Linked DNA regions of Homo sapiens: all the other regions are linked to region 3. The links come from fine-mapping of genetic effects on gene expression. A gene starts in region 3. Each other region holds a variant in brackets. All regions are shown on one strand. Distances are between the middles of the regions. Region 1 overlaps CEP250 (centrosomal protein 250). Region 2 overlaps MMP24-AS1-EDEM2 (MMP24-AS1-EDEM2 readthrough). Region 3 holds the start of MMP24OS (MMP24 opposite strand). Region 4 overlaps MMP24-AS1-EDEM2 (MMP24-AS1-EDEM2 readthrough).

What was found.
Region 1: its variant is fine-mapped to the expression of MMP24OS in whole blood (TOPMed, PIP above 0.99).
Region 2: its variant is fine-mapped to the expression of MMP24OS in whole blood (INTERVAL, PIP 0.95).
Region 4: its variant is fine-mapped to the expression of MMP24OS in lung (TOPMed, PIP above 0.99).

What each region holds. Positions count from the first base shown.
Region 1 is chr20:35,491,694-35,498,230 of GRCh38, reverse strand. It overlaps CEP250 (centrosomal protein 250), which reads right to left. Exons shown (of 35, transcript NM_007186.6): 23 at 4,659-4,802; 24 at 3,574-3,707; 25 at 1,516-1,654; 26 at 164-512. Among named protein-coding and RNA genes, the nearest start is that of CEP250-AS1, 4.0 kb to the right of the region's middle. The variant A/G (reference allele first, on the strand shown) is at 2,896.
Region 2 is chr20:35,253,320-35,261,127 of GRCh38, reverse strand. The region is part of intron 2 of MMP24-AS1-EDEM2 (MMP24-AS1-EDEM2 readthrough); the gene reads left to right. MMP24 (matrix metallopeptidase 24) reads right to left here. Exons shown (of 9, transcript NM_006690.4): 4 at 6,374-6,678. Among named protein-coding and RNA genes, the nearest start is that of MMP24-AS1-EDEM2, 21 kb to the left of the region's middle. The variant T/G (reference allele first, on the strand shown) is at 3,993.
Region 3 is chr20:35,273,538-35,281,345 of GRCh38, reverse strand. It overlaps MMP24OS (MMP24 opposite strand), which reads left to right and starts at 3,224. Exons shown (of 2, transcript NM_001355003.2): 1 at 3,224-3,337; 2 at 3,414-4,994. The coding sequence starts at 3,417. The coding sequence ends at 3,632. MMP24-AS1-EDEM2 (MMP24-AS1-EDEM2 readthrough) reads left to right here and starts at 3,224. Exons shown (of 15, transcript NM_001355008.2): 1 at 3,224-3,300. It overlaps MMP24 (matrix metallopeptidase 24), which reads right to left. Exons shown (of 9, transcript NM_006690.4): 9 at 4,348-7,074. The coding sequence ends at 6,737. EIF6 (eukaryotic translation initiation factor 6) reads left to right here. Exons shown (of 7, transcript NM_002212.4): 4 at 517-692; 5 at 1,228-1,404; 6 at 1,599-1,780; 7 at 2,140-2,428. The coding sequence ends at 2,149. RefSeq lists silencers at 3,045-3,264, 3,355-3,574 and enhancers at 3,705-3,874, 3,995-4,094, 4,681-5,288, 5,289-5,896, 7,578-7,647.
Region 4 is chr20:35,208,437-35,216,244 of GRCh38, reverse strand. All of the region lies in intron 4 of MMP24-AS1-EDEM2 (MMP24-AS1-EDEM2 readthrough), which reads left to right. It also overlaps a transcript of PROCR not described here. Among named protein-coding and RNA genes, the nearest start is that of MMP24, 14 kb to the left of the region's middle. RefSeq lists an enhancer at 1-185. The variant G/T (reference allele first, on the strand shown) is at 3,971.

The sequences.
Region 1 (6,537 bases), 220 kb before region 3:
CTAGCAAATGGTAGAGCTGGGGCTTAAACTCAGAATTAATTCCCAAGTATGTAATCTTAACCCTGAAGCAATATGGTCTAACAAATAGCATTCCTCTCCCTTTCCCCTGGGAGCCAGGCCTGGCTTTGGCCCAAAGGACCTAGTTCTGGGGAGGCTGTCTCACCTGGCTCAAGGCCCCAGACGGAAGGAGCAGAGTCTCCCCCACCACTCAGCTCAGGCCTGCTCTCACAAACAGACCCCAGGGCCTGCTGCAGGGCAGAGTAGAGGCTGGCCAGCTGGGCCTGGGCCTGGGCCTGGTTCCCGGGCTGCTGCTCTGCGGCCAGCGCTTCTAGCTGGCTCTCTGTGCTGCGCAGTCGCAGCTGTAGTTGGGCTGCCTTGGCTTCCTGGGCCCACAAGGAGGCTCGCAGCTGCTGCTCCGTGATATGAGACGCCTCCAGCTCCTCCAGCAGCTGTGCTTCCTGGGCCAGAAAGTCAGCCTCCTTTTCCTTCACCTCTTGCCTTAGTAATTCCATCTGTCAAGGAAGAATTTTACATAATATAAGCAGGAAGCGGATACCCTCTCCTCAGGCCTTCCCAGGCCAGACCCCACTCAATCCTTGTACAAACTCTGATCAGGGCTGGGAGGATTTCAGCTCAGCTCTCAGGCAGGTAGAGGGGCTCTGAAATGAGTGTTACCCTAGATCTAACACCTGGCTGCCTGCCGACTACTGAACACATGGGCCCAGGCTGCTATGCTAATGGGCTTCAGCCCTGGCTTCCTGGGCAGATATGCTGGCTCCTTGCTATGACCAGAACTCTGCCCTGAAACCTCGACGCTGCGCCTAGTAAGACCAGTCACAATAACATAGCTACCATGTATTGAATGCTTATTGTGTTCCTGACACTTTATATATTCCTATAATGGTTATAGGAATTAGGAACAAGAATTGTTCACCCTTGTTTTATGGATGAAGAAGCTGACGTTCACACAATTAGAAAGCTTACATTCAAACTCAAGACCATTGAACAGCCAAACCTGTGTGCCCTTAACCCCTGCAAGCCACCATCTGGCTCTTACACCCCATTCCTTCCCTCCTAGTTCCATCTTTTCTCTGTATACAATATCTGGGGTTCTGATGGGGGCAGACTGAGTCCCTGGAAGTCTTGCTGCTGCCTGCCTGATCTGGAGTATTTCTGGTTGCTCATTCTCCCTGCTACATCTTGCCAACCAGACCCAGCATACTTTGAAGCCGGTGTGCTGGAACCAGGCCTGCATGGGCTACACCCGTGTGCACTTTGCTGTGGGCTGTCAGGTTTCCCACAGGAGCCATGTCCATCTCTGGGTCAGATTCCCAAGCCCCCGCCTTGTCTAGTCCTGGCTTCCCCCTCCTGTAGGGGTGTTGAGGCACCAGCCTATCCTGTAATCAGGAAAAATAGATGGGTCCTCTCCATGAGAGGACTCAGAGCAATCAATCCACCGCTTCAGAATCAGGCTTCTGCCAGGGATGCAGAGCTCATAACCAGAGTGGGAAGTACCTGAGCACTGAGCTCTTTCTGTTCTCCCTGGGCCTCCTGCATGTCCTGGCGCAGGGCACTCAGCTCTTGTTGTCGAATAGAGTCAGCTTCTTGTAAAACAAGGAGTCTCTGTTCCTTTTCCATCAGTGAGAGAGTCAGGCTAAAAAGAGAGGGGTCAGAGTGCTGGGCCATTCTCTTAGGGAATGAAAAATTACCTTCTCATCTGAGTATTCTAAACATAGCATTAATAATCAAAATAGAAATAGTAATGATAATGATTATGATGTAACAATAAAAGCTATCATTTATTGAGCACTTACTATAATAAGTGCTCCTAGGTACTTCCTGCAGATGATGCCCCATTTCAACCTCACAGGTTTTTTTGTGTTTTTTTTTTATTGAGACAGAGTCTTGCTCTGTTACCCAGGCTGGGGTACAGTGGCACGATCTCGGCTCACTGCAGCCTCTGCCTCCCGGGTTCAAATGATTCTCGTGCCTCAGCCTCCAGAGTAGCTGGGATTGCAGGCATGCGCCACCATGCCTAGCTATCAACCTTATTCTTCTCTGGCAAATTTCACACATACCTTATATTAGTACCTCACGTTCAACATGTCCAAATCTTCCCCATCCCTTTCCTCTCCTCCCCTGTCCACCCAATCATCTCCTACTATGTTCCCTAGCTCAGTGAATGGCACTTCCATCCACACAGTGTCCTAACGTAGAACCTTGACTACTCCAGAGTTCTCCCTTCAACCTACCTACATCCAATCTATAATTATATACAATTGATTCTAACTCCCTTAACATCCTTTAAACCTCTTCTCTTCTCTCCTCCTCTTCCCCACTACCCTACCTTGGTTTAGCTTTAGGATCTCTCATCAGGACAACTGTACCAGCCTAACTTGTCTTCCTGCCTCTAGATTCACCACCAAAATAATGTGTCCCTTCTCAAACTGTGTCTTTTTTTTGTTGTTTTTTGCTTTTTTTGAGATGGAGTCTCGTTCTGTCACCGAGGCTGGAGTGCAGTGGTGTGATCTCAGCTCACTGCAACCTCCACCTCCTGGTTCAAGCAATTCTCCTGCCTCAGCCTTCCAAGTAGCTGGCATTACAGGCACCCACCACCATGCCCAGCTAATTTTTTTTTGTATTTTTAGTAGACATGTTGGCCAGGCTGGTCTTGAATTCCTGACCTCAAGTGATCTGCCCACCTCAGCCTCCCAAAGTGCTGGGATTACAGTCGTGGGACACAGCACCCAGCCCATCCCCTTCTCAAATTCCCACAGCACTAAGAATACAAGCTGCTCTTCACTCTGAATGGTCTTCTTTCACTCCTGATGTCTCATGGCATTACAATCCCTTCAAATACATCATAAGTTGGATTGTATCAATTTCCCTGCTTAA[A/G]ATTCTCCAGAGGTTTCCTATGAAACTCAAACTACGAACTCCTTGCTGTGGCCTACCAAATCTTGAATGCTGTGGACCTGCCCAGCTCATGCCACTCTCCTCATTCACCAGGCTCCAATTACAATCCAATCAGGCTCCAACCACTCTTTCAGTTAACACTGTAAACTTTTATCTGCCTCACGGCCTTTGCATATTATTTCTCCTCTTACGGAATAGAACTCCCCCTCACCCTTTTACATGGGTAGCTCCACTTCATGCTGAGTGCTCAGTTTAAATGCAACTTCCTGAGAAAGGCCTTCCCTAACAATGGTTCTAAAGTCTCTTCTCTCTCTCACCCTGTTTCCTCCATGTGTCATAACGTAATAATTTGAGTTATTATTTGATTAATGTCTTCCCCACAAAACTATAAATTCTACTGGGGCAGGGACCATACAGTCTTGTTTATCACTGTATCCCCAAGCATGGTGCCTGGTGCATAACAGGCGTTCACGAAATATTTACTAAATAAATGAAGTTCAAGCTTTGAAGACAGGAACCATGTCCTCTCCACATGGCTACATGTACATCCCAGAGTTGCAGACATGAAAGGCAAGGTGGCCTGAGCAAACAACTGTCAATATCACAGTGACCATGGCAGCCAGATAGACAAAAGCCACCTCCATGGCCTATCTAGCCTACCTGGCTTTCTCTCTCTCCAGCTCCTTCTGAATTCGGTTATACTCCTGGGTCTCTCTCAGCTTCTCCTGAACCTCCTGCTCCACCAGCCTCTGGGAGTCATCCTGGGCCACCAGCTGAGACTTCAAGTCCTCCACCTGGAAAATTAAGGGCATGAAGACCAAGATGGCAGGGCAGGGGGCCGGTGGGAAGATGCTCCTCACCTAGGGCTTCAGGGTCCTTCGAGGTTTACCATAGTCAGTGGCCATTTCCAATGCTCTGGCGATTCTACCAATTCCTACACACTGTTCTTAACCACCCCCTTCCTCAATACAATTCGGCCTGGTCATCTGCCTCCCAGCCTCACATATGCTGCATAGAGGCAGGCACAAATAAAAATCTTGGCTGGGCTGGGTGCGGTGGCTCACACCTGTAATCTCAACACTTTGGGAGGCCAAGGCGAGCAGACTGCTTGAGACCAGGAGTTCGAGATCAGTCTGGGCAACATAGTGAGACCCTGTCTCTATAAAAATTTAAAAATTAGCCAGTGTGATGGCACACATCTGTAGTCCCAGCTACTCAGGGGGCTGAGGTGGGAGAATTGCTTGAGCTTGGGAAGTCAAGACTGCAGTGAGTTATGATCTGCACTTCAGCCCGGGCGACATAGTGAAATCCTGTCTCCCCCACCAAAAAGAAGGAAAAAAAGGCTGACTATAACTACTCCCAAAGGCAAAACATGTATTGTGATTGCTTTTTTAAAAATGAAAAGTCAGAACATCATTTGATATAGGATTCTGAGGAGAAGCAACCTAGTATGTAAAAATATTAGATTTTTGGCAAGGACGGAAAGAACAATTGAAACTGAGACAGCCAGGGAAAACAAAAACTCTGTGACCATTACAGAGAAAGAGATTACTATCCCAGGGCTCTGCCAGGCACATGCTCAACTCTGAGCACCCTCTAATTTTCCACTCAGTACTGTGGCCCACCCATCTACCCTCCCAAACCAGGCAGCAGGGCCAAGGTTCTCCCTGTCCTGCAAGAGGAAGTGGGAAAGCCTGGCTGTGTTGGGGAAGGACCATGGGACTTGGTGGGGAGGAGGAGGGGACCTGCTTCTGCAGGTCCATCTTATCCTGCAGCAGGGAGCTGCTCTCTTCTTGGAGGGCAGCAAGGTCATCTCTGTGCTGCCGGGCTGCCTCCTTCAGCTCCCGTTGAGCCTCCTGGAGCTGGGTCTGTAGTATCCCAGTGGTCTCCTGAAGAGGGATAAGAAATCATTGAGTAGAGGAAATCTGTGTCATAGAAATACTGGTTTTTTTGGTGGGGTGGCAAAAGCTGAGGCAGGAGCCAGCAATCCACATTGTTTCCACCTCACCTTCTCACTTCCTAGTCCCTCTCCTCCCTCACAAAGTGCACTGGCTCACCCAGGTTTCTTGGTCAGAGTCCATGAATTGGTAATAGTCTCTCACCTAGACCATGGAAACAGTCTCCTAACCATATCCCTACTTCCACTTGATGCCACGATCCCCTAAAAACACACACACACTATTCTCTACTCAGGAGAGTAGAGAATACATATACATATATGTATATACATATGTATACGTATATATAAATAAATCATATCCCACCCCTGCTTTTTAAATACCATCCAACTGCCCAGGCGCGGTGGCTCACGCCTATCATCCCAACACTTAGGGAAACCAAGGTGGGTGGATCACTTGAGGTCAGAAGTTTGAGACGACCCTGGCCAACATGGTGAAACCCTTTCTCCACTAAAAATACAAAAATTAGCCAAGCATGGTGGCGGGCACCTGTAATCCCAGCTACTTGGGAGGCTGAGGCACAAGAATTGCTTGAACCTGGGAGGCGAAGGTTGCAGTGAGCTGAGATAGTGCCACCGCACTCTAGCCTGGGTGACAGAGCGAGACTCAGTCTCAAACAAATACATACATACATACCACCCAACAGTTTCCCATTGCTCTTAGAACAAAATCCAAGCTCCTACAATGGCTGACACAGGGCTTCTGGCTACCGCTCCACTCGCCCCTGAGTTTATCAAGCTGGAGCCACACTGCCTCCTTTTTGTCCTTGAACTTCCCAAGCCCTCTTCTGTGTCCCAGGGCCCTTGCGACAGGTGTTTCCTCTGCCTAAAGTGTTCTTCACATGGCAGGCATTTTTTTTTTCAAATGGCTTGAGATATAACTCATATACCATACAATTCACTCATTTAACGTATACTGTGTAGTGGGTTTTAGGATATTCACAGAGTTGTGCAACTATCATCGCAATCAATCTTAGAACATTTCCATCAATCCCAAAATAAACCCCGTGCCCATTCACAGTCAATCCCCATTCCCCACCCCATTCCCCACCATAAATCTGTTTTCTGCCTCTATAGAGTTGCCTATTCTTGGTGTTTCATATAAATGGAAGCATATCATATAAAATATATGGCTCTTCCACTTAACCTGATGTTTTCAAGGTTCACCTATGTTGTATCACGGAGCTGGTTTCTTTCTAACCTTCAAGTCTCAGCTCAGATGTTACTTTCTCAGTGAGGCCTTCCCTGACCACTAAGTGCAAAGTGAACCTCCTTTGACTCACTCTCAGTTGTATCATTCTATTTCCTTTACAGCACTTATCACAAACTGTAATAATCTCATTTACTTTGTGTCTGCTCATTTGTCATCCATTTCTGCCACAGGAATGTAAGTTCCTTGAGAGCAGGGGCAATGTCTGTTATGCTGACTGCTGTGCCACACCTTTTTTTTTTTTTTTTTTTTTTTGAGACTCGCTCTATCACCAAGGCTGGAATGCAGTGGCGTGACCTCGGCTCACTGCAACCTCCGCCTCCTGGGCTCAAGCTATTCTCCTGCTTCAGCCTCCCAAGCAGCTGGGATTACAGGCAAATGCCACCACACACAGCTAATTTTTGTATTTTTGTAGAGATGAGGTTTCACCATGTTGGCCAGGCTAGTCTCGAACTCC
Region 2 (7,808 bases), 20 kb after region 3:
GTAGGCTGTGGATCACCAGTCCTGACTCCTGTCTGCCCAGTGTCAGACCCTTGCTTGCCTTGACCTCTGGCATTTGTAGCCCCTTGAGCCCTGCCTCTTATCTTCTGGCCCTAAGGCATGGCTCGGCCCATTCCTGCCACCTGTAAGTCCAGGGAGGCTGCCAGGAACCTAGGAGGTGGTCTAGAGTCCTACTGCCCACTCTGGCCCCAGCGTCACTGGCCTAGGGACACATGGGGGTGGGGATTGTTTGGCCTTCCTGGCTTAGGTCTCTGGAAGAGAGAAGAACCCCATGGGGCAGACCCAGGCCACGGGCAGTACATGCCTCCCACACTACTGACACCGCCAGTGTCTTCTGTGAAGCCACCTTTGAGCAACGGAAAGGAAGGGGGATGGGCAAGATCAGTGCAAGGTTGGCCAAAAGCCTGGGGCTGGCCTTCTGCTGGCATGAGAGGGCCAGGCCGCCCCCAGCTCCTTACTCAGGTCCTGGCCCCTCTGGCAGCAGGGAAGGGTGAGCTCATCGCTGAGCTCCATCCCAAACAAACTGGTAGAGCCAGCGGAAGGCAGCTCTGCTTCCTGGGGTCCAGTCCTGGCTGTGCTCCTGGGCTATTCTATGACCTGGGACAAGCTGTTCAGGGCCTCTGTCTCCTGAGCAGGCTCTTCCCCAGGGGCTGTCCACAGGGAGCTCAGCTGGGAACCAGGGAACACGGCTCTGAGCACTGTGGGAGACTCAAAACCTTTGTCCGCAGCCTTGTCTCTTGCTCTTTTAACCCCTGTTCTGGGTCTGCAGAGAACAGGAGTGACCCCTTAAAGGAAAGAGGCCTGTGGTTTGGGTCCAGGAACCAAAAGGAAGGGAAGAGCGAGGGAGCCAGTATCCTGCTGCACAGAAACCCAAGAGAGCCCTGAGGGGGAGACAGAGGGAGCAGGGCAGGGGCAGGAGGACTCCCTGAGCTTGTGAGGTGAAGGCAGAGGTATGAGGAGGAGAGGCCTGCTATGAGGACCCCATGCTCCATGGGCAGGAGGCTGCTAGGGTCTTCACTCTTCAAGAGGGTGAGCGGCAGGGAAGCAGAGTGGTCAGGAATGCAGTCTCTGGGAGCCAGACTGCCTGGTTTTGAATCCCAGCTCTGCCATGTCCTAGCAGTGTGACATTTTAAATTCTTCCTCTGGAAGATAGAAGGAACAATGGCACCTTCGTCATAGGGATGTGGGTGAAGATTCATGGGGCAGGGTGTGTAATGCGCTGATACCAGCTCCTGGTACAGAAGTATTACCCTTCATTAGCAGGGTCCTGTTGAGCTGTGTGTGAGCACCAGCACCCCTGATAGGGTGTGTTCCTGTAAGTCCCTGGGCCTCCGAGCAAGTCCCCAGCAGTCTACTCGGCTACTCAAGTGGACCTTGTCTCTGCCTCATTTCTTTCTTTTAGGATCTCCATATTTGGTCGTTCCCATCTCATTAACTCCCCCAGCCCCACGAAAGGTGATAGCATTTCCCTTTGCCTCTGTTCTTCTGCCAGTGCTGCCCCTTCCCCTGGAATAACCTGATTCCTTCAAAGTTCAGCTCCATGCCTGTCTTCCAGGAAGCCTTCCATGACTTCCCAGCTGGCAGTGAGTGCTCCTTCTGCTGTGCCCTCCCAGCAGTTTCCCTGAACTGCCTTTATGGCACTGACCGCTTCCTCCCCACGTGATTGCCACTAGTGCACATGCTCGCTGCCCCAGGACTGTGGGTTCCTTGAGGACAAGCTTTGTGTTGAAGAACCAGGTGACAGCCCCCGGAATGGAACAGCGCCAAAAGCACCGTATTTTACCAAGGGAAATACTCGGACCACCTGCAGCAGAACCACCTGTGGTGACTTAAAAATGCGGAGTCCTGGGGTCACACCTGGCTCTGCCACTTTCCAAAGGGGTGAATTTCCTATTTTTTTAAAAAGTATTTTCTTTCTTTTTTATTTTTGAGACAGGATCTCACTCTGTCACCCAGGTTGGAGTGTAGTGGTGCAATCTCGGCTCACTTGAACCTCCGCCTCCCGGGTTCAAGCCATTCTCCTGCCTCAGCCTCCCGAGTAGCTGGGATTACAGGCATGTGCCACCACACCCGGCTAATTTTTGTATTTTTAGTAGAGACGGGGTTTTGCCATGTTGGCCAGGCTGGTCTCGAACTCCTGACCTCAGGTGATCTGCCCCCCCTCGGCCTCCCAAAGTGCTGGGATTACTCCAGTGCTCCCATCGCACCTGGCCCGGGGAGCCTTTTAAACACATGGAGGAGGTGGGGAAGATATTCTGATTCAGGAGGTTTGGTTTGGGACGTAGGCAATCTTTTTTGTTGTTTTTTTTTTTTAAGTTCTCCAGGTGAATTGTATAATGGTTGGGTCAGGCTGACACAACCTGAAGCAAATGCTCGACCTCAACATCACTAAAAGTGGGACAGTCTGCATCATATGTATTTGCTAATATGGTGAATAGGAAGTACCAGCACCACCTAGGAAGTATTCTTGCCAAAAAAATTGAACTTGAATCTAGTCAGCCTGTAAATCTAATGAACAACATTCAGGAATTATGGGCAAGAGAGACGTATTAAAAGTAAACTTGATTCTAGTCACGCCAAATGATTATACTCGGGACACCTGACCCAGTTTCTTCAACAAATATATGGAGGGAAACGTGTGTGTAGGACGGGGGTGTTTTAAATAAAAAGGGCTTTAAGAGACATGTCAGCCATGTGTGTGTGGATCTTGTTTGGATCCTGATTCAAGCAAACAACTGTAAAAGACATTTCCAAGGTACTTTGGGAAAGTGAACTCGAACTGGGTATTAGATTTTAAAAAATTATTGTTAATTTTGTTGGGCTTGATAATGATTGTGTGCTTATGTTAAAAATTAGCCTTTATCTGTTAGAGGTATATACTAAAGTATTTAAAGGTGAAATGTTAGAATGCCTGAGATTTTCTTTAAAATACATCAGCCAAAAAAAGGTAGATAAATAGGAATGCCACAACGTTGATAATTGCTGAGGCAGGTGGTGGGTATCTGGGAGATCATAGAAGCATTCTTCCTACTTTTGTGAGTTTGAAATTTTCCATAATGAGAGTTTAGAAAAAAGAAGTAAGCTAATAAGTTCAAAAAGTTCCCAGGAAACTCCACCCCTTTGCTGAGTCTATGTGGAAATTAAACGAGATAATATATGGATGCTCAATAAATTTTGGTTCCTTGCCTCTCACCCAAAACCTGCCTTCACTGCATTCCAGTTCAGGAGTCGATTGCTGTGGTCCTGAGCTGCATCTGGACAGTTCCTGCTTGGTTTTCCAGAGCAGAGCAAAGTCCTGATTCTTATCCAAAGAAAACATTAGCAATCTTGGAATTTCTATCAGAATTGGCAGTCTTTCATGAAGGTTAGGGTTGGACAGATGGGAGAGGTGCTGGGATGGTGCCCATCCACAGGTCCCCGGTCCTTCCCACACATACCACCGGCTCTTGGGATTTGGGGGCTGGGTCCAACAAGTTCTGCAAAAGCAAGGAGCAGGTGTGGGAAGTGCACACCCCCAGTGCTGGGCAGAAGGGGAGGGCAGAGGAGTGGGAGTGTCTTCCCGTTGCCTCTGGACAACTCTTTGGACATTCATTTGCCTCTATCAGGAATATAACTAAAACCCTATCAGCTAACAGTGCCTGGCACATAACAGGGCCTCAAAAATATTAGTTCTCTTCTCCTCACATCTTATCTGTTAGCACAGACAGCCATTCGTTGACACCGATCCAAAAATAAGAATGAGATAAAGAACAGGTACTCAGCCAGGAATACATGCAGGACATACGGGAGAGATACCAGGGCAAAGGAAACGGAGTTCAATAGGAAAGAGGACAAAAATCTGAAGAAAGAAGAGGACAAAGAACAATTTAACAGGTTCATGACTTTGCCTAGGCTGAGCCTTGGCCAAACCACCTCCTGGTCCAGCCTTTGACAGATAACCCCAGAGCTGCCAATCCCTAATCCATGCGATGATA[T/G]AAAGTGTTCTCAAGGAGGTGATCCCCAACTATAGACACCAAACATGGCCCCAACTATAGACACCAAACCAGCTTTGAGAGTCTGCTCTCAGCCTGGAGCAGCCGCAGGGCAGGAAAAAAGGATGCTCGGTGTTTCCCAAGCTTGTTTGAGCTCAAGAGTCAGGATTTCTGTGGGAAGGGCCTGGGAATCCCCGTTTATAACAAGAACCCCCATTGGTTCTTATGATCAGGCCAGGTAGGAAAACTCTAGGTATTAAGATAGCGTTTCTCATGGTGATGGAACACCTGCATCAGAAGGCCCCAGGAATGTATTAGACCACTTGCAGATTCCCAGGCCCTACCCCGGACCCAGAGAATCAGAATGACAAGAGGTTAGGGTCCTGGAATCTGCAGTCTTTTTTTTTTTTTTTTTTTTTTTTTTGAGACGGAATCTCTGTTGCCCAGGCTGGAGTGCAGTGGCATGATCTCGGCTCACTGTAACCTCCGCCTCCCGGGTTCAAGGGATTCTCCTGCCTCAGCCTCCAGAGTAGCTAGGATTACAGGCACCTGCCAACATGCCTGGCTAATTTTTGTGTTTTTCGTAGAGATGGGTTTCACCATGTTGGCCAGGCTGGTCTTGAACTCCCGACCTCAGGTGATCCACCTGCCTCGGCCTCCCAAAGTGCTGGGATTACAGGTGTGATCCACCGTGCCTGGCCTGGAATCTGAATTCTTAAAAATGGTTCCCAGGTGATTCTGCTGTGCCCTACAGTTTGAGAACCATGGAAGCTTAGCATGATGGCTGACAGCATGGGCTCCAGGGCCATAATGCCCAGATTCAAAGCCTTATTTCACCATTCACCAACTGTGGGACCTTAGGTAGGTGACTTAATGTTTCTCTATATCTCAGTTTACCTATCTGTAAAATGAAGATAGCAATATTTACCTATAATAATAATTTAACATTATATATTGCTTAATACATAAATTTAATTATGCATTATAATGTATTAATAGATATAATAGTTTCCACACATAATGGGTGGCAAGCACTTGGCACGGGCCTCAGAACACCAGCATACCCACTAATTATCATCTCTTATAATCCAAAAGCCACACTCCTCTGTCCCTCTTTCCTCCAAACTCCTACATATTTCTTTGTGCCTCTGCTACAGCCTTGGGTAGAGTCTGTCTATGACAGGGTTACTTACGTGCACACCTAACTCCCCTGCTAGACTGACTCTGGACTGCCAGGGGACAGAGATCATGCCATTTTTTTCAAACATTCAGCTCCCCCTGGTCTTTGCAAGACTTTGTATCATGTTCATTAGAGTTGGAAGGGCCCTTAGCGATCACCTAATCCAGCCCCTCACTTTGCAGACGAGGAGACCGAGGGTATCACATAGCCAGTAGTTGAACCAGGGCTTGATACCTGCATTGTCACCTTTCAGCTATGCCAGTTGAGCCCCAACTCTTCATCTTAAAAATGGGTGTAATAATGTACACTTGCCTACATACTAAGCATGTGCCTTGTGAGTAAATATTGATGATGAATTTTTTGGCAACCTGCAGGGTATCATTACTATTGCTGCACGGTATTGACTCTGCCTCCATAAATATTCATTGAACCATAGTGGTGCAGGGTAAATTATCCAAGGATGCCAGAATAATTTCAGGGCCTGCTACTCACCTGTGAGGGTGACAAAGGAGAGAGCCAGTCGTGTCATTCATAAGATGGCTTTTGGAGCCCTCATCATTCAGGCCAGAGCCTACTACTTTCAGACCCCTCTTTCAGCTTTAATGCCTTTTAACTTTTTTTTTTTTTGAGATGGAGTTTCACTCTTGTCGCCTGGGCTGGAGTACAATGGTGCGATCTCGGCTCACTGCAACCTCTGCCTTCTGGGTTCAAGCGATTCTCATGCCTCAGCCTCCTGAGTAGCTGGGATTACAGGCACCCGCCACCACGCCCAGATAATTTTTGTATTTTTAGTGGAGACAGGGTTTCACCATGTTGGCCAGGCTGGTCTTGAACTCCTGACCTCAGGTGATCCACCTGCCTTGGCCTCCCAAAGTACTGGGATTACAGGCGTGAGCCATTGTGCCTGGCCCCTTTTAAACTTTTTCTTCAGCCTCTGGTCCATTACTTTATCTTCTTACTGGCCTAACCTTACTTTTCTCCTGCCAACCGGACTATCTTCTAAGTGATCTGACTCATCTCCATGGCCCTGGCCCTGGTGGATTGAACGTTGAATATTATCAGAAATCACAGTTCCCACCCTCTTACGGTCTTAGTTCTTGGACAAGAGGCTCTAGAAAGCAGGAAACTCATCTAGGATGTCCTCCAAGTTCTTTCCCAACAACTGAGCAGCCCAAGACTGACCCCTGTCCCCTCATGGCCTTACCGTCATGGTTGGCATTTCCTAGCGTCCATGGCTCATCGGAGTCAAAGTGGGTGTCTCCTCCAATCCCTGGGCCAGGGAAGTAGGCATGGGCCAGGAATCCCCCTTCTCCATCAAATGGGGAGCTGTCGCCATGGAAACCAGAAGCAAAAAAGATCATGATGTCTGCCTCCTTCCGGTCACTTTTGATCTCATGGTATGGCACCTCTTCAAAGGTCAGTGGGGTCACCTTCTGCCACACATCGAAAGCCTGGCGAATAGCTTTCCGCGTGTCTAGCTCACCCACTTTTGGGGTATAGTTGTGAATGCTGGTGAGAGAGGGGAGGATCATTAGGCAAGATCAGAGAGTCAGAGACTAGCAGAGCTAAAATAGATACCTGAGACAATGTGGCTCAGTGATCTGATTTTGAACCCTAGAATTCTGCTTAGCTGCCTCAGGGATTGAAGAAGAGGCTGAGTAACAGAGCTCTGGATCCCCACCCTGCCTCAGTCAGATGGCTTTGCTTTACTCAGTGTTTTCCATTTGATCTCCAGCAAAGCTGTGTCGAATAAAGGATTCCACTCTAGTTTGTTGAGAAAAGTAAATTGGGGCTGGGCGCAGCGGTTCACGCCTGTAATCCCAGCACTTTGGGAGGCCGAGGCTGGCGGACCACATGAGGTCAGGAGTTCGAGACCAGCCTGACCAACATGGTGAAACCCTGTCTCTACTAAAAGTACAAAAATTAGCCAGGCGTGGTGGTGTGAGTCTGTAATCCCAGCTACTCGGGAGGCTGAAGCAGGATAATTGCTTGAACCCGGAGGCAGAGGTTGCAGTGAGCCAAGATTGCACCACTGCACTCCAGCCTGGGTAACAAGAGTGAGACTCTGTCTCAAAAAAAAAAAAAAAAAACCCAAAGGAAATTGGTAGATAGCATTTTCTGAATTTTAAGTTTTTTTCCCTAATACGAAATATGTTCATTTATAAAAGTTATAAAAATATTCAAATAATAGAGAGGAGTTTAAGTGAAAAGTCTCTTTAAAAAATCTTTGGTACCAATCTTTGGCTTGTCTGCCTAGAAGCTGGCCGGTATCTGATTTAATCCATTATAGGTTTAGCTGTTTAGCGTCGCTGTGTTCATATTGCATTGGTTCTTCACAAAACAACGTTACTACCTGTGGGTTCCCTGCCCTGTGACCCTCTGGGGCATGGATTATTCTACCTACTCCACACGTAAGGAAACTGAAGCCCAGAGAAGTCTAGTGATAGAAGTTACTCAGAGTTGGGTTAGAACCCAGTGCTTCTTTCTCTTGATCCACTCTACCCCTTCAAGAGACCCAAGAGTCTATTCAGTTTCTAACCTAGATTCTTAAGTTTCCTTCTCTTGTCAGATTTCTGGAAAAAAAAAATCCCGTTCTGAAGGGACAGCTTATCAGCAGAAGAGCCCTTAGTTCAACCCTA
Region 3 (7,808 bases):
GGCGCGATCTCGGCTCACTGCAAGCTCCGCCTCCCGGGTTCACGCCATTCTCCTGCCTCAGCCTCCCGAGTAGCTGGGACTACAGGCGCCCGCCACCACGCCTGGCTAATTTTTTGTATTTTTAGTAGAGACGGGGTTTCACCGTGTTAGCCAGGATGATCTCGATCTCGATCTCCTGACCTTGTGATCTGCCCACCTCAGCCTCCCAAAGTGCTGGGATTACAGGCGTGAGCCAACACGCCCGGCAGCTCAGTTTTTAAGTAGCAAAATATACAGCTAATGCCAAGAGCTCAGCTTCCCTCCCAGTTGGTGATGGTGAAGTAGGCAGGATTTATTGGGATTCCTGGGTGGTCTCTGGCCTGCCCTGGGTGTTTTCCAGATCAGTGGGTTGGAGGGCTGGGCTCTGGGCCTAAAGCTTTCCTGGGAAAGCTGATTGGGCTGGGCTGAGTGGTATCCTCAGCCCCTAGGGCTCAGCAGGCATCTTGTGTATTCACCCTCTAATTTGGGTTTCTCCAGGGAACAGGCACGGTCTCCTGGTACCCAACAATACCACCGACCAGGAGCTGCAACACATTCGCAACAGCCTCCCAGACACAGTGCAGATTAGGCGGGTGGAGGAGCGGCTCTCAGCCTTGGGCAATGTCACCACCTGCAATGACTACGTGGCCTTGGTCCACCCAGACTTGGACAGGGTGAGGCAGCCCAACTTGACCCAAGAGTCACAGGGCCATCCTAGTCAGTGGTTAGCCACTGTTCTTTCCCAACAGGCAGCAATTAGGGGTCTCTCCTGTGGTTTTTCTATATGGGCTCTTGAGTTTCAGGTACTCATTGGAATAGTGATAACAGAGGCCTTATCAAGTGTCAGAAAGAAGCTGGGGAGGGTATGAATCCTTCATGATTGGGGAGATTGAACCATCCAGTCCTGCATCCTGGGCCAGGATAGGTGATTGACTGTTGAACTTTTGACTGTGGGTGAGAGGGGAAAGAAGTGATATTGAGACCAGCCTCCAGCTGTTCAGGGCATGCATGAATATTAGGGGCTTCACAGCTGCCCTTGACTCTGCTCTAAGCTGTACTTCCTCCTTTCTCTGGGTGAGGCTTTCATATGAGGTACAGAGGAGAAATGAGGGGCTCAGGGAGCCAAGGCCTGGATGCTTCTGGGCATGGAGAACCTTGGTTCTGGGGCTGTAAGTTCTGAGCCCTGAACACAATATCTTTGATTGACAGGAGACAGAAGAAATTCTGGCAGATGTGCTCAAGGTGGAAGTCTTCAGACAGACAGTGGCCGACCAGGTGCTAGTAGGAAGCTACTGTGTCTTCAGCAATCAGGGAGGGCTGGTGCATCCCAAGACTTCAATTGAAGACCAGGATGAGCTGTCCTCTCTTCTTCAAGTCCCCCTTGTGGTAAGCATTCCTGTCCTCTGAACCCCGTCTCCCGAGGCAGATCCTTTTGCCTAGTGTTTGGGAGTCTGGGTCATTACCTGCCACAGTTTGGGACTGGGGCTGCAGGTCAGGGAGGAGCAGGGTTTGGGGAGAGTCTTCATTGAGGAGGGAGAGAATTTGGTGCCGTGACTCACATTGAGCCCATCCCTTGGCAGGCGGGGACTGTGAACCGAGGCAGTGAGGTGATTGCTGCTGGGATGGTGGTGAATGACTGGTGTGCCTTCTGTGGCCTGGACACAACCAGCACAGAGCTGTCAGTGGTGGAGAGTGTCTTCAAGCTGAATGAAGCCCAGCCTAGCACCATTGCCACCAGCATGCGGGATTCCCTCATTGACAGGTACCTGGGGCCTCTCCTTTCTTCTGCTCAGGGTTGGGGGTTAACTTGCATTTTGAGAGTATGGGGAAAAGATGTCATCTAGAATGGGAGCCTACCAGTTTGTTCTGGTAGCTTCTCGAGTGTGAGAGCATATCTGTACACTGCTGAGCAGATAAGAGCCAGCATATTCAAAAAATATTTCTTGAGCATCTGCTAATCCTCATCTTTGTGGTTTTTCAGGGCTAGGATACTAGAGCAGTAGCTGCTTGAGCAGCTTGTCAGAGCTGGTCCCGGGATGAGGGCTGAGGCAGGCACCTCACTTGAGAGTGAGGTGGGCTCTGTGAAACAGCTACTGACCGTGCGCTTTCCTTTCTCTTCAGCCTCACCTGAGTCACCTTCCAAGTTGTTCCATGGGCTCCTGGCTCTGGACTGTGGCCAACCTTCTCCACATTCCGCCCAATCTGTACCGGATGCTGGCAGGGAGGTGGCAGAGAGCTCACTGGGACTGAGGGGCTGGGCACCCAACCCTTTTCCACCTGTGCTTATCGCCTGGATCTATCATTACTGCAAAAACCTGCTCTGTTGTGCTGGCTGGCAGGCCCTGTGGCTGCTGGCTGAGGGTTCTGCTGTCCTGTGCCACCCCATTAAAGTGCAGTTCCCTCCGGGCCATTCTGAATGTGATGTTTGGGGCCCTCAGCCTGTGTACAATCCCTGCACTCTCCAGTTGTTCCAGCATTCTGGGAAGATAGGGTGGGATGAACACAACACACACCCAACCCAGTTCACCACCTCCACACACGCCATTCCCTTCTCCTCTACCATCAGGATGTGAGGCTTCATCCTGGGGCAAGAAACACTCTCCACTACAGTTCTCCTTTTTTCTTTTTTCTTTTTGAGGCAGTGTCTCCCTCTGTCACCCAGGCTGGAGTGTTGTGACGCAAGGATGGCTCACTGTAGCCTTGACCTGTTGGGCTCAAGCGATCCTCTCGCCTCGTTTATTTTTTTGTAGAAACGAAGTCACTGTGTTGCCCAGGCTGGTTTATACTCCTGAACTCAAGCGACCCACCGCCTCGGCCTCCCAAAGTGTTGGGATTACAGGCGTGAGCCACGGCGCCCGGTCTAGTTCTCACAGTTTTCACCCGACTTCTGCGCCGGTCTTCTCTGGCCTTGAAAGGCAGAGAGTCCGTTCCGATTTTCCCCTGAGCTGGGCAAGTCCCCTGTGAGAGCTCTGGGGCATCTGGCTTCGGGGCATTCTTTGACTAAGGTGGATGGAGGTTGCAGGTCTTTTCCTGGGTGGGCGTGGGGCGGGGCAGCGGGTTCCCAGCGTCCTCCTGGCCTGGGCGTCTTGGAGGCTGTTGGGGTGCATTCCGTCCCCTTGCGCGGGGCGGGGCCTTGAGGCGCTGGGGCGGGATTGGCGGGGGACGGTCGCGGAGCCCCGCCCCGAAGCACAGGGTCGAGTCCCTTCTTTCCGCTCCAACGCACGGAGGGTGAGGTCGGTACGCGGTGGTGGCGTCACGGCGCCAGCTCCTCCCGACGCCGAGGTGGGTTCCGGGAGACCCGCGGGTCTGGCTGCGAGAGGTGAGGGCAGAGCCGGGGCGGGGCCCTAGCGGGGTGTCCCGGCGACCCAGACCTTAAAGGGCTTCTCTTCTTGCAGACCATGGGGGCTCAGCTAAGCGGCGGCCGCGGCGCCCCGGAGCCTGCGCAAACCCAGCCCCAGCCCCAGCCCCAGCCTGCGGCGCCGGAGGGCCCGGAACAGCCCCGGCATCCGCCCCAGCCCCAGCCCCAGCCCCAGCCCCAGCCCCAGCCCGAGCCCAGCCCGTGGGGGCCGCTGGACGACGTGCGCTTCCTCATCGCCTGCACTTCCTGGTACTGACGGCGTCCTCCGCAGGATGTCGCCCGTCTGTCCGCCGTCCCCTGTGGTTCTTGCCTGCCTTGTCTCCTCTCCCCACGTCCCTGCGTCTCTTACACCCCCTCCCACCCGAGGCTCCCCAGAGATAGCAGAGAATTCGAAGAGGTCGCCGGGGACTGGAAAGAAGTCCCGGCAGGGCCGCCTTCGCAGTCTACACCCCAGCCTGCTTCCCAGCCTACACCCAGACCCAGCTCAGACCTTCGTGACCACCCCATCCCTTTCTCCGGCTGGCTGGGTCGGGGGCATCCCTCTCTGTCGCTGGCTTCCAGAGGCAGGACAGGCCTCCTGGTAAGCCCGCAAAGTTGCTGACCTCCTGACTTCGTCTGCCTTTTATTAATATCTGTATTGCTGATAACCGTGCTCTTGACTATGTGTCCCAGGTCATGTCCCAGGTCATGGAGAAGCCCGTGCCACAGTGACCCTCCCCATACTCCTGGGGGGGCTGCTCTCCATCCTGGATCGTAAGGAGGCATCATCAGGCTGTGTTCCTGGAACCCCAATAACCCTGGGCCCCCAGGGCCAGCCTGTTGTAGAGGGAGGCTATCTGACCGCCGGTCTGGCAGAGGAGATGGGTGGGCAGCTCCCAGACACCCCAAAGGACCCGGTTCTCTTCCCAGAGCGTCCTAAGGTTACTCTTGGAACCTGATCTTTGTTCCCTCATCCCAGGGAAATGACACACTCTGTATTTCTGTTTTATTTAGAAATGATTTAAAAAACATTATACAAAGGCTGATCAGTTTAAAATGTGACTGACACTGAAATGCTGTGATGTCCCCCAGGCTGAGGGGAAGCTAGGCTCTGGGGCCCCCAGTGCTTTGCCCCTCTGTCTGCCCTGTCCTGGGGTGATGGACAAACAGATGACCACAGGCAGGAGAATCTGAGATTGGAAGCCTCTAGGCTGAGCCCTCTGGGCCTGGCCCCACATCCCTCACCTCTGCAGCCTGGGCTGCCTGCCTCCATCTCCTGTTCATTCTCAGCTGGCCTGCCAGGAGCCAATGGGGAGCCTGGCGGGAGGCGGGGGTGCCTAGAGCTTTCAAGAAGTGAGAGCACCAACCTGAGGAGTGGACAGGGACCAGGAAGTGGGGGAAGGGAGGCCAGGAAGAGGTGGATACAGGAGACACTTCTCATCTCATCTCAGACCCTAGAGGGGTCCACAGATGGGGACACAAGACCCAGCCAGCCCACTGGATGGCCCGGGCAAGTAACAACCTCTCTGTGCTTCATCTGAGGGCACGGTGAGAGTTACCGTCGGCCTCCCAGGGCCTAACACGAGTTTCATGTGAGTGGACAGGTGTGAGCTAATAAAGTGCTTTGCAAAGTATAAAACACTGTACAAACCTATGAATCACTAATATCTCCGCAGTTGTTCCCTGCCTGTCCCAGGGAGCCTGCCCTTGGCCAAAATGAGAAAAAACAAGGATGATGACAGGGGACACAGCGGACCCACATGGGCACCTCTGGGACAAGAGATTTTGCTTGAGACAGCTCCCAGGGCAGCAGGAGTCCCTGTCTGTGCTACAGGGTAAGCCGACCCCAATCCCAGAGACCACAGGGTCGGGGGCAAGGCCCATGCAGGCTCAGTGAGCAGGGGTGGCATCCGAGACCCGGCCAGCACGCTGGAGACTGCCTGACACCTTTTTGGCTTTGGCAGAGAGCCAGTGGGCATTGATGAACCCATTGGCCTTGTCTAGGGCTCCTCAGTGACAAGCAGGGCTGCCTCCGCCGTACTGTGGAGCAAGGCAGGCCAAGCCCTAGGAACTCCTGCTGGAGACAGTGAAGGGCGGGCCAGTGAAGGTCAAAAAGGGAGCCCCCTCAGCTTGGGGCTGCTACCGGTAGGGGTGTCCTTCTAAGAGCAGTGTGGGAAGATGGGCCCAGTGAGCGAGGTCAGCAAGGGCCAAGCTCTGGGAAAACACTGCTTCCAGCCGAGAGATTGAGTCGGCCTCAGAGTAGCTGGAGTCGGCCTCAGAGTAGTGGGGGCACTGAGCACTTCAGACGCCCTGGTCCCCTTCCGAAGGACTCCCAGGCTCTGCCAGTGTTGGCCCTGCAGCCATCTCTGCCTCACCTAACTGGTGAGGCTGAGCTCCAGGCTGCAAGTGACAGACTGGAGCAAAGCTGGGGACAGTGACAATAGAGGGGAGTGGAGGACGGTCACAAACTCGGATCTTCCTCCAGAAATGGGGTCAGCTTCTGCCCCAGCTCTGTAGCCATAGGAGCAGAGCTCAGCTACTGGGGTGTCTGGGCGCTAGAGTGGCCTTAGCAGCACCTTGGTCCTTGTCGCCTGGGGGAGGGCCGCTATGCTGGCCTCATCACCAAGACAGTCACCTCTAGTTCACCTAAAGCCTCAAGCAGCCTTTGCAAAATGGGACAGTAGTGACAGGACATTTAAATATTCACGATGTGACAGCTGGGTCCTTGTCAGACCCAGCTGGGCCACAGCCCTGCCTGCAGCATGTGACCCTAAATCCTGGGTCTCCGAAGAGACCCTGACAAGTGGAGCAGGTTTCCTGAGGGATCTGCCGTCTGCCAGCAGGGAAACCCAGGCTTGTTGCTCACTGTGTCAGAAGCAGGGGTCCTGTAGCCTTGGAGGACAGTGGGGTGGGGGTAGGGGGACATCTGACCAGCAGGTGTTGGCAAAAGGGGACCAGGACTGGTGGTATCTCCCGGATGGGGGATGAGAGCTAGTGCTGGCTTCCCACAGAGGGTGCTGGGTTCCAGCCAGGAGTGGAGCTGTGGTACCTCATGGACACCACAGGATGCCGTGACCACAGGGGCTCCTCCTGGCATGGTCCCTGCCTCCGGATGGAGCCTGGCCTATTCCCTTAAGTAGGGAGTAGTTTGCCCAGGACAGAAGGCTGGCAGCTGGGTGCCAGACACCCACCCTGGGGCACAGCCCCCATAATTCCCTGCCCCACGCTCAGCCTAGGCCAATGCACCCACCACTTCAGCTGTACGACCCCAGCCTAGGGCCCTGCTGGCCCTGGTGAGCACTGGCCAGAGCTGCCCCTCAGACCCTGGTGAGGAAGGGCCTGGCTGGCCAGACCAAGTGGATAGAGAGGGCTCTGGGCTGCTCACACCCATTCCTGGACTGGCCGCTTATAGTAGGTGACAGGCTGAGGGCCTGTCTTGTTCTTGAACTGGAAGATGGTGTAGACCAGCACCAGGATGCAGAGGGACAGGATGCAGGGGATGACCACGGCCACGGCGTTCACGGAGCCCGGCACATCGTTGATGGTCACCATGATGTCCACGTCGTCCTGGGGCAGCCGCCGCTCCTTCCGCCGCTCCACCTCCTTCTGGTTGCAGCCCATCCAGTCACGCAGGATGTTGCGCGGGTAGCCTGGCTCCACGCTCAGTTTCTGGTTGTCAAACTTCCAGTAGTCCCGGCCCTTGTAGAAATAGGTGTAATCTGCAGAAATACAGCCCAGCATCACCACTCCCAGACACTTCCGGCACCTGCTCTGGGGCAGTGTGAAAAGGAGGGCACAGGCACTGTGGCAAGGGAGGCAAGGTGGGCACACCTGGAGGTTTGGGGTGCAGTGCTTGGCTGAGTCATGGAGTAAGAAGCTGCAGAGGGGGGCACCCGGGACCTGGAGTGGTCCGCCTGTCATCCTACGGGTGCTAGGAAACCAGAGGGGCTTCAGGGAGAACTGGGACATGGTTCACTTTGTGCTGCCCAGACAGGACCCCTTGCACGCAAGCCTGGGTCACAGCTCTGTCACACTGTGCGCACAGGTCCCCCTTGCCCCGCTCATGTGGGCTCCATTAAGCCTCAGCCTGGCTCCTGCTTGAGCCAAGGGAGGCAGGGAGCAAGATTTCACCTTGTGTTGACAGCAAGACCTCTCTGCAATTATGGATTTTTTTGGCTTGGCACACATCACTTCACAACACAGATGCAGGACCTTTGGGAGCCTTCTGGGAGAGAGGCTGGGCAGCCCTGCCAATCACTCCCTGGGCAACCACCCCAGGGCTCGAGCAACAGCCTGAGCGGCCCAGCCAGTGGGCAAAGCAGCTTGCTTAGGCCGTCCTCATTGGCTGGCTTCCCACCGTGGCTAGGGCTTTCATTGGTCTCGGTCCTTGATGTCACCTGTCTCTGAGGCTCCCCAAAAAGGGAGATCTTGTGCGTAAAGCATCAGGTATACA
Region 4 (7,808 bases), 65 kb after region 3:
GAGTGACATTCTTTATTTTTTATTTTGTTTTATTTATTTATTTATTTGAGACAGAGTTTCGCTCTTGTAGCCCAGGCTGGAGTGCAATGGTGTGATCTCGGCTCACCGCAACCCCTGCCTCCCGGGTTCAAGTGATTCTCCTGCCTCAGCCTCCCGAGTAGCTGGGATTACAGACATGCACCACCACGCCTGGCTAATTTTGTATTTTTAGTAGAGACGGGGTTTTTCCATGTTGGTCATGCTGGTCTCGAACTCCCAACCTCAAGTGATCCTCCTGCCTCGGCCTCCCAAAGTGCTGGGATTACAGGAGTGAGCCACTGCGCCCGGCCAGAGTGACATTCTTAGTAGAGATCTGAAAGGAAATATAAATGAGAGGGTGGCTGGAGAGCACAGTCCAGCTTAGGAAGTCTCCTTGACCTCTCTCCTCCTTCCTCTGAATTCCTATTTCAGCAGCTAACAGTCAATGAAAAGCAATTTACCTACATCAAATCACTTAATCCTCACCACTGTCCTGTGAAGTGGATTCTAAGGAAAGGGTGAGAGAAGTGACCTACCCCACGACACACCTAAAAAACAGCAAAACCAGGAGTAGAACCCAAGTGTCTGACACTAAATTCATGTCCTTAACCCTTGGTGCCTTTGTTCATTCATTAATTACCTCAAAAATTCTGTAAACATTACTCAGAAGCCACTCTGTGGAAGGTACTGGGGCAAGTGAGGCCGTCTTCAGGTTAAAAAAAAAAAAAAGATAAGACTTGTGCACATAAAAGGCGTGACAAATAACCACAAAACATTACACCATTCTATAGGATTTCAGAGGGGAGTGAGGTCACTCTGGCTGGGGATATCAGGGAGATCAAGGAAGGTTTCCAAAAGGAAGTAGCATTTGAGATGAGTCTATATAAACTGGTAATATTTTAAAAGCTAATAGTTTTATATGCAATATACACAGAACATTACCACACACGTGTTCAAAAGTTACAAGCAATGGAAGACTGTGTGAAGTTTTAATTGGCAGAAAATGGAGGGTAAAAGGCCGGGCGCTGTGGCTCACGCCCGTAATCCCAGCACCTTTGGGAGGCTGAGGCGGGTGGATCACTTGAGGTCAGGAGTTTGAGACCAGCCTGACCAACATGGGTGAAACCCCGTTTCTACTAAAAACACAAAAAAATTAGCCTGGCTTGGTGGCGCGTGCCTGTAATCCCAGCTACTCAGGAGGCCGAGGCAGGAGAATCTCTTGAACCCAGGAGACAGAGGTTGCAGTGAGCTGAGATGGTGCCACTGCACTTCAGCCTGGGCTACAGAGTGAGACTCCATCTCAAAAAAAAAAAAAAAAAGAAAAAGAAAATGGGAGGTAAAGGCCTGGAGGAAGGAAAAGGTCTGATTGTTCAGGATCTAGAGAAGGTCCCAGTCCAATCCCCCGACTCAGTCTCAATGTCCAGCCCCAAATGACTTGAGAGTATTTCTTACTCAGGTTTCTCCCTTAAAAGCATATTCAAACCAATGCATACAATGGGACACTATGCAGCCTTTTGTAATTTTTTTTTTTTTTTTTTGAGATGGAGTTTCGCTCTGTCGCCCAGGCTGGAGTGCAGTGGCGCGATCTCGGCTCACTGCAACCTCCACCTCCTGGGTTCAAGCAATTCTCCTGCCTCAGCCTCCCGAGTAGCTGGGATTACAGGCGCCCACCACCACGCCTAGCTAATTTTTTTGTATTTTTTTAGTAGAGGCAGGGTTTCACCGTGATAGCCAGGATGGTCTCGATCTCCTGACCTTGTGATCCACCCGCCTTGGACTCCCAAAGTGCTGGGATTACAGGCGTGAGCCACCGCGCCCGGCCCAATGCAGCCATTTTTTAAAATGAGGAAGTACTTACGAATTTATGAATAATTAGGACATTATTTCCAAAATGTAATGTTAAGTGGTAAAAAAAAGGCAAAGGTGCAGAATCCTGGATATTGTAGGCTACTATTTGTGTAATAATCGGAAAAAAGAATACATGTGTGTGCATGCACTTGCTCATTTACACATAAAATAGGGACAGATACCCAAGGAACTGATAATAGTGCTTACTTCCTGGAGGGAAGCTTAAGTGGTTTGAGGACAGGGTGGGAAGGCAATTTTTATTTTTATTTTTTAATTTTTTTTAATTATTTTATTTTATTTTTTTGAGATGGAGTCACGCTCTGTTACCCAGGCTGGAGTGCAGTGGCACAGTCTCGGCTCACCGAAACCTCTGCCTCCTGGGTTGGAGCAATTCTCTTGCCTCAGCCTCCGAAGTAGCTAGAACTACAGGCAAACACCACAAAGCCCAGCTATTTTTTATATTTTTAGTAGAGACAGTGTTTCACCATGTTGGGCAGGCTGGTCTCGAACTCCTGGCCTCATGTGATCCGCCTGCCTTGGCCTCCCAAAAGTGCTGGGATTACAGGTGGGAGCCACCATGCCTGGCTGGAAGGAGATTTTTCTCACTGTATACCTTTTTGTATCTTTTGACTTTTTAATCATGTGGATATATTATCTCTTCAAAAAATAAGTACAAGCTGAGCATTTTTTCCCTTTAATATTGTATGTTCTCCAAATGAACAAGCTGAGCTTCTAAAAAAATAAGTGTAATAGTCTCTAAAGGCCACTCCCTGAAAAGAGGGCTTATATTGCAAAATACTGGTATACAGTGAAAGCAGTAACAGTTCACTTAGGTTTCAAAAATTCAGGCCTTCATCTGCATGGCCAAAAAAAAAGCAGAAATAAAGCAACAAACTATAAACTAGGTAAAATATTTATTATTATTTTTTTAACGTAAAACAGCTGTTATAAACCAATAAGAAAAAGACCTATGACCCAATTCAATAATGGCGAAGGACTAAATGGGCTTCATGCAAACAGAAATATAAATGGACTCTTTTTTTTTTTTGAGACAGTCTCGCTCCGTTACCCAGGATGGAGTGCAGTGGCACGATCTTAACTCACTGCAACCTCTGCTTCCTTGGTTCAAGCGATTCTCATGTCTCAGCCTCCCAAGTAGCTGGGACTACAGGCACATGCCACCATACCTGACTAATTTTTTTGTGTTTTTTGTAGAGACGCGGTTTTGCCGTGTTGGCCAGGCTGATCTGGAACTCTTGGCCTCAAGTGATCCATCTGCCTCGGCCTCCCAAAGTGCTGGGATTATGGGCGTGAGCCACTGTGCCTGGCCTGAACAGACTCCTATAATAATTTTTTAAATGACCAACCATGTTTGTAATTAAAGAAAGGCAAATTAAGACAATCAGCCACTGCTTTCTTAACATTATCAGACTGCAAATACCAAAAGGTTGGATACTACAGAGTGTTAAAGAGGGCATGATAAAACAGATACTCCTCCATACTGTTGGAAGAGATACAAATTGGTTTACTCTCTTCAGGTCACCAACTGGCAATGCCTATCAACCTTGAAAATGAGCATACCTTTGACCCATCAATTCTAATTCTGAGAATTTATCCTAGATAGATATCCTTGCATAGGTGCAAACACAAAATTATTTGTAGCAAATTATTCAATTGCCTCATTCTTTGTAATTACAAAACACCAAAATCAACCTAAGTACTTTCCAGTTGGGGAAATTGCTACATCTAAACTGAGGAATACACTGGGAAGAAGTTGAAAATGGTGTGGCTGTGTATTACTGTTACGACAAGACCTTGATTTAGCCCCTTCATTATCTCTTACTTGGACCGCAGTAATAACTTCCCAGCAGGTCTCCCTGCCTTCATCTTGCCCTCTTGCAGGACCTGCTACGTAATTTGCAGGGCCCAGTGCAAAAATGAAAATGCAAGTCTCCTTGTTAAAAAAAAAATAAGAATTTCAAAATGATGACAGCAGAACATTAAAACAAGCGTGAGGGCCCTTCTAAGAGGGGGGCCCTGTGTGACTACAGAGGTCACAAGTCCATGAAGCAGGTCTTGCCCCTTGAGTGTCACTTGGACACTG[G/T]CTGCCCATGTGACATGCTGCATCCTCTGCCTGGAACATCCTTCCACTGCCATCTCTTTTTCTCTATGATGTACTACACGCCTGCCAATAAATAACTCTAATGTGACCTCCTTTGGGAAGTTTTCCCAAAGTCTTAAAAAGTTCTTACTCAAAGTCTTACAAAGTTCTTACTCAAATCACTCTTTCTTCAGTACTCCCCTAGCTCTTGCACATAGTTTTATTAACTCTTTATCACAGTGTTTGTTTTTTTTTTTCTTGAGACAGAGTTTCACTCTTGTAACCCAGGCTGGAGTGCAGTGGCATGATCTTGGCTCACTACAACCTCTGCCTCCTAGGTTCAAGCAATTCTCCTGCTCTCAGTCTCCCAAGTAGCTGGGATTACAGTTGTGAGCCACCACACCCAGCTAATTTTTTTATATTTTTAGTAGAGATGGTGTTTCACCATGTTGGCCAGGCTGGTCTCAAACTCCTGATCTCGGGTGATCCTCCTGCCTCAGCCTTCCAAAGTGCTGATATTACAGGCGTGAGCCACCACGCCCAGCCGATCACAGTGTTTTTATAATTATTTCTTTAAAAGTTTCTCTCCTAGAGTTTCTGCAGGACTTGGCCTATGGATTGTGCTTTGTTTGTTTTTTGGGTAACTCTGGCACCTCATACATTACCTAGCACATGGGAGTTGAGAGAATGAATCAGCTGGAGTGGATGTATTTGGATGGGTGTGTTAAAAAATCAGCCATATATTGCTTCACAGTTACACCTCATCTTCAGGTTGTTAAATCTGACTGGACTCTTAATTTAATAGAGGCCAGCAGGTCCTGATGACTGGTTCTTCATTCCAGGAGCCATAGAATAGTATCAGACAGTCCCTTGAAGGGGTGGGAGGTACCTGGACCTGAAAATTTTGGAGGCTCCCGCAAGCCATTTACACCTATCTCTGAATCTCCTTATACCTTTCACGCTTTTAAAATGGAGGTGCAATCTCATTAGGGCCCACTGGCCCCATCAATCAGTGCCAGGTTCCAGGAACCCAGTAGTTTCAGATTGCCCCCAGTCCTTTGCAACACTGGTTTTCAAATGGGGTATGCAATAGCCGTAAAGTAAATGAAGGCTTGGTAAGCGGTACTCATGCATGGATATATTTAAGGAAATTCATTTCCAGATCCTCAACTTCCAGATGTACTCCACCTGAGAAAGTTCCTGGGGTTGAGGCTCCAAGCCGACTTTTTCTTCATAATTGTAGTTCTGCTAGTCTTCATAAGAAAGGCCAGGCATGGTGGCTCACGCCTGTAATCCCAGCACTTTGGGAGGCAGAGGTGAGTGGATCACCTGAGGTCAGGACTTCAAGACCAGCCTGGCCAACATGGTGAAACCCTGTCTCTACTAAAAATACAAAAATTAGTCAGGCACAGTGGCACGTGCCAGTAATCGCAGCTACTGGGGAGGCTGAGGCAGGAGAATCGCTTGAACCCTGGAGGTGGAGGTTGCAGTGAGCCGAGATCACACCATTGCTCTCTAGCCTGGGCAAGAGTGAGACTCCATCTCAGAGAAAAAAAAAAAAATGGAAAAAAGAAAAGAAAGAAAGGCATATATCTGACCCACCCTGAATGATACATTGCACGGGGCAATTAAAAAAAAGTTCAGAACTGGGGACAGTTAAAAATACAAGATTCAGAAAATAGCCTTCTATTATCTTTTAAAAATATGTCTATATTTTTGTTTGTTTGTTTTGAGACAGGGTCTCGCTCTGTTGCCCAGGCTGGAGTGCAGTGGCGCAACCGTAGCTTACTGCAGCCTCAATCTCCTGAGTTCAAGTGATCCTCCCGCCTCAGCCTCCCAAGTAGCTGAGACTACAGGCGTGTGCCACCACACCCACCTAATTTTTAAAAATTTTTCATAGAGATGAGGTCATACTATATTGCCCAGGCTGGTCCTCAATTCCTAAGCTCAAACAGTTCTCCCATCTTGGCCTCCCAAAGTGTTGATATTACAGGTATGAGTCACTGCACTTGGCCTAATGTTTTTTAAAAATTTTATTTATTTATTTTCTTAGAGATAGGGTCTTGCTCTGTTGCCCAGGTAGAAGTATAGTGGCATGATTATAGCTCACTGCAGCCTTGAACTCCTGGGCTCAAGCAATTCTCCCACCTCAGCCTCCCAAATAGCTAGGACTACAGACACACACCACCACACCTGGCTAATTTTTTAATTTTTGTAGAGATGGAGTTTCTCTATGTTGCCCAGGTTGGTCTCAAACTCCTGGGGTCCAGTGATCCTCCAGACTCAGCCTCCCAAAACATTTGGATTACAGGCTTGAGCCGCTGTGCCCAGCTCACATTATTTATCAAAATTATTTTAAGTGGTATGTGAGCAAAAGACTATGAAGACCACTGGTTCAAGACCATAGGCTATGGTGGCCTTTAGGAGGTTTTCTAAGAGGTAGTGGCCTAGTCTTCTCCACCTCTAGTCCTCTGAAACTGAATCTGTTTCACTAGGCAGACCAAAAAAATCATCGTAGACCAAGAAAGTCATTGCACTTGATTTCTTTGTAATTACCACCATGGTTGACCAGTCTTCTTTTTGAAATACACTTCCCCTGACTTTGGCATCATTGCACATTCCTGATTTTCCCCTCCTTGGCCCCTTGTCCTAAGTTTTTGCTAGCTCCATCTCTTCCAGTTGACCTTTTAAATTCTGGAGTTTCTCAGGGAAGTTATAAGCCTTCTACTCTTTCTATTATTTTCTAAGAAATGTCATCCATGACCACAGTTTCAAATATAATCTGTATCCCAACAACTCCCAACTTTCTATTTCTAGCATAGACCTTGCTCCCAAACTCCTGAATCTGATTGCTTATTCCACATCTATACCTTAATGTCTCGTGGGATTCCCGAACTGCAAAAAGCCAAAGCCAAGTTCATATTCTTTCCATTCATAATGTCTTCCTCCTCTAGGCTTCCCCTGCTTAGTAACAGTGCTCTATCTGCCCAGTTGTTCATGCCAGAGACCTGGAAGGCATTCTTGATGTCTCTTTAACCTCCCCCATAGCCAACCAATAATTTATTCCTATGAATTCTACTTCATGTAAGATTTCCCTAAGCCTCCAGACCAGGCTACATACCCTTATTCTATACCCTCATATAGCACCTTGTACTTCATAGTATTTATTCAAACTGTAATTAAGTAATTATTTTGTGTAATTCTGTCTCCCCCTCTACACCATAAGCTCCATGAACACAAGGACAATACCTGCTTATTTCTGGCATATAGTAGGCTCTCAATTAATATTTGTTTATTTATTTTTTGGGGATGGAGTCTTGCTGTATCACCCAGGCTGGAGTGCAGTGGTGTGATCTCGGCTCACTACAGCCTCCGCCTCCTGGATTCAAGCAATTCTCCTGCCTCAGCCTCCCGAGTAGCTGGTATTACAGGTGCGTGCCACCATGCCCGGCTAATTTTAGTATTTTTAGAGGTGGGGTTTCACCATGTTGGCCAGGCTGGTCTTGAACTCCTGGCCTCAAGTGATCCACCTGCCTCGGCCTCCCAAAGTGCTGGGATTACAGGCGTGAGCCACCACGTCCAGCTGAATATTTGCTAAATGAACAAATGTAAGCACTATTTATAGTGTCGTAGTCTTTCCAGTGTTGTGTAGTGTTCTGCTGTGTGTTTTTGTGATTTAAAACCTATTGCTATGTTCACGGTAGGGGGCAGCAGAGTACGCGGATACTGAGAGAGTCCAGTACTCAGTATTAAAAGGGCAACTTCAGATAAATGACTTAACCTTTCTGAGACTATTTCCTTCTCTGGAAGTCAGGGTTAAGTCTCCTTCCCTTGGATCAAA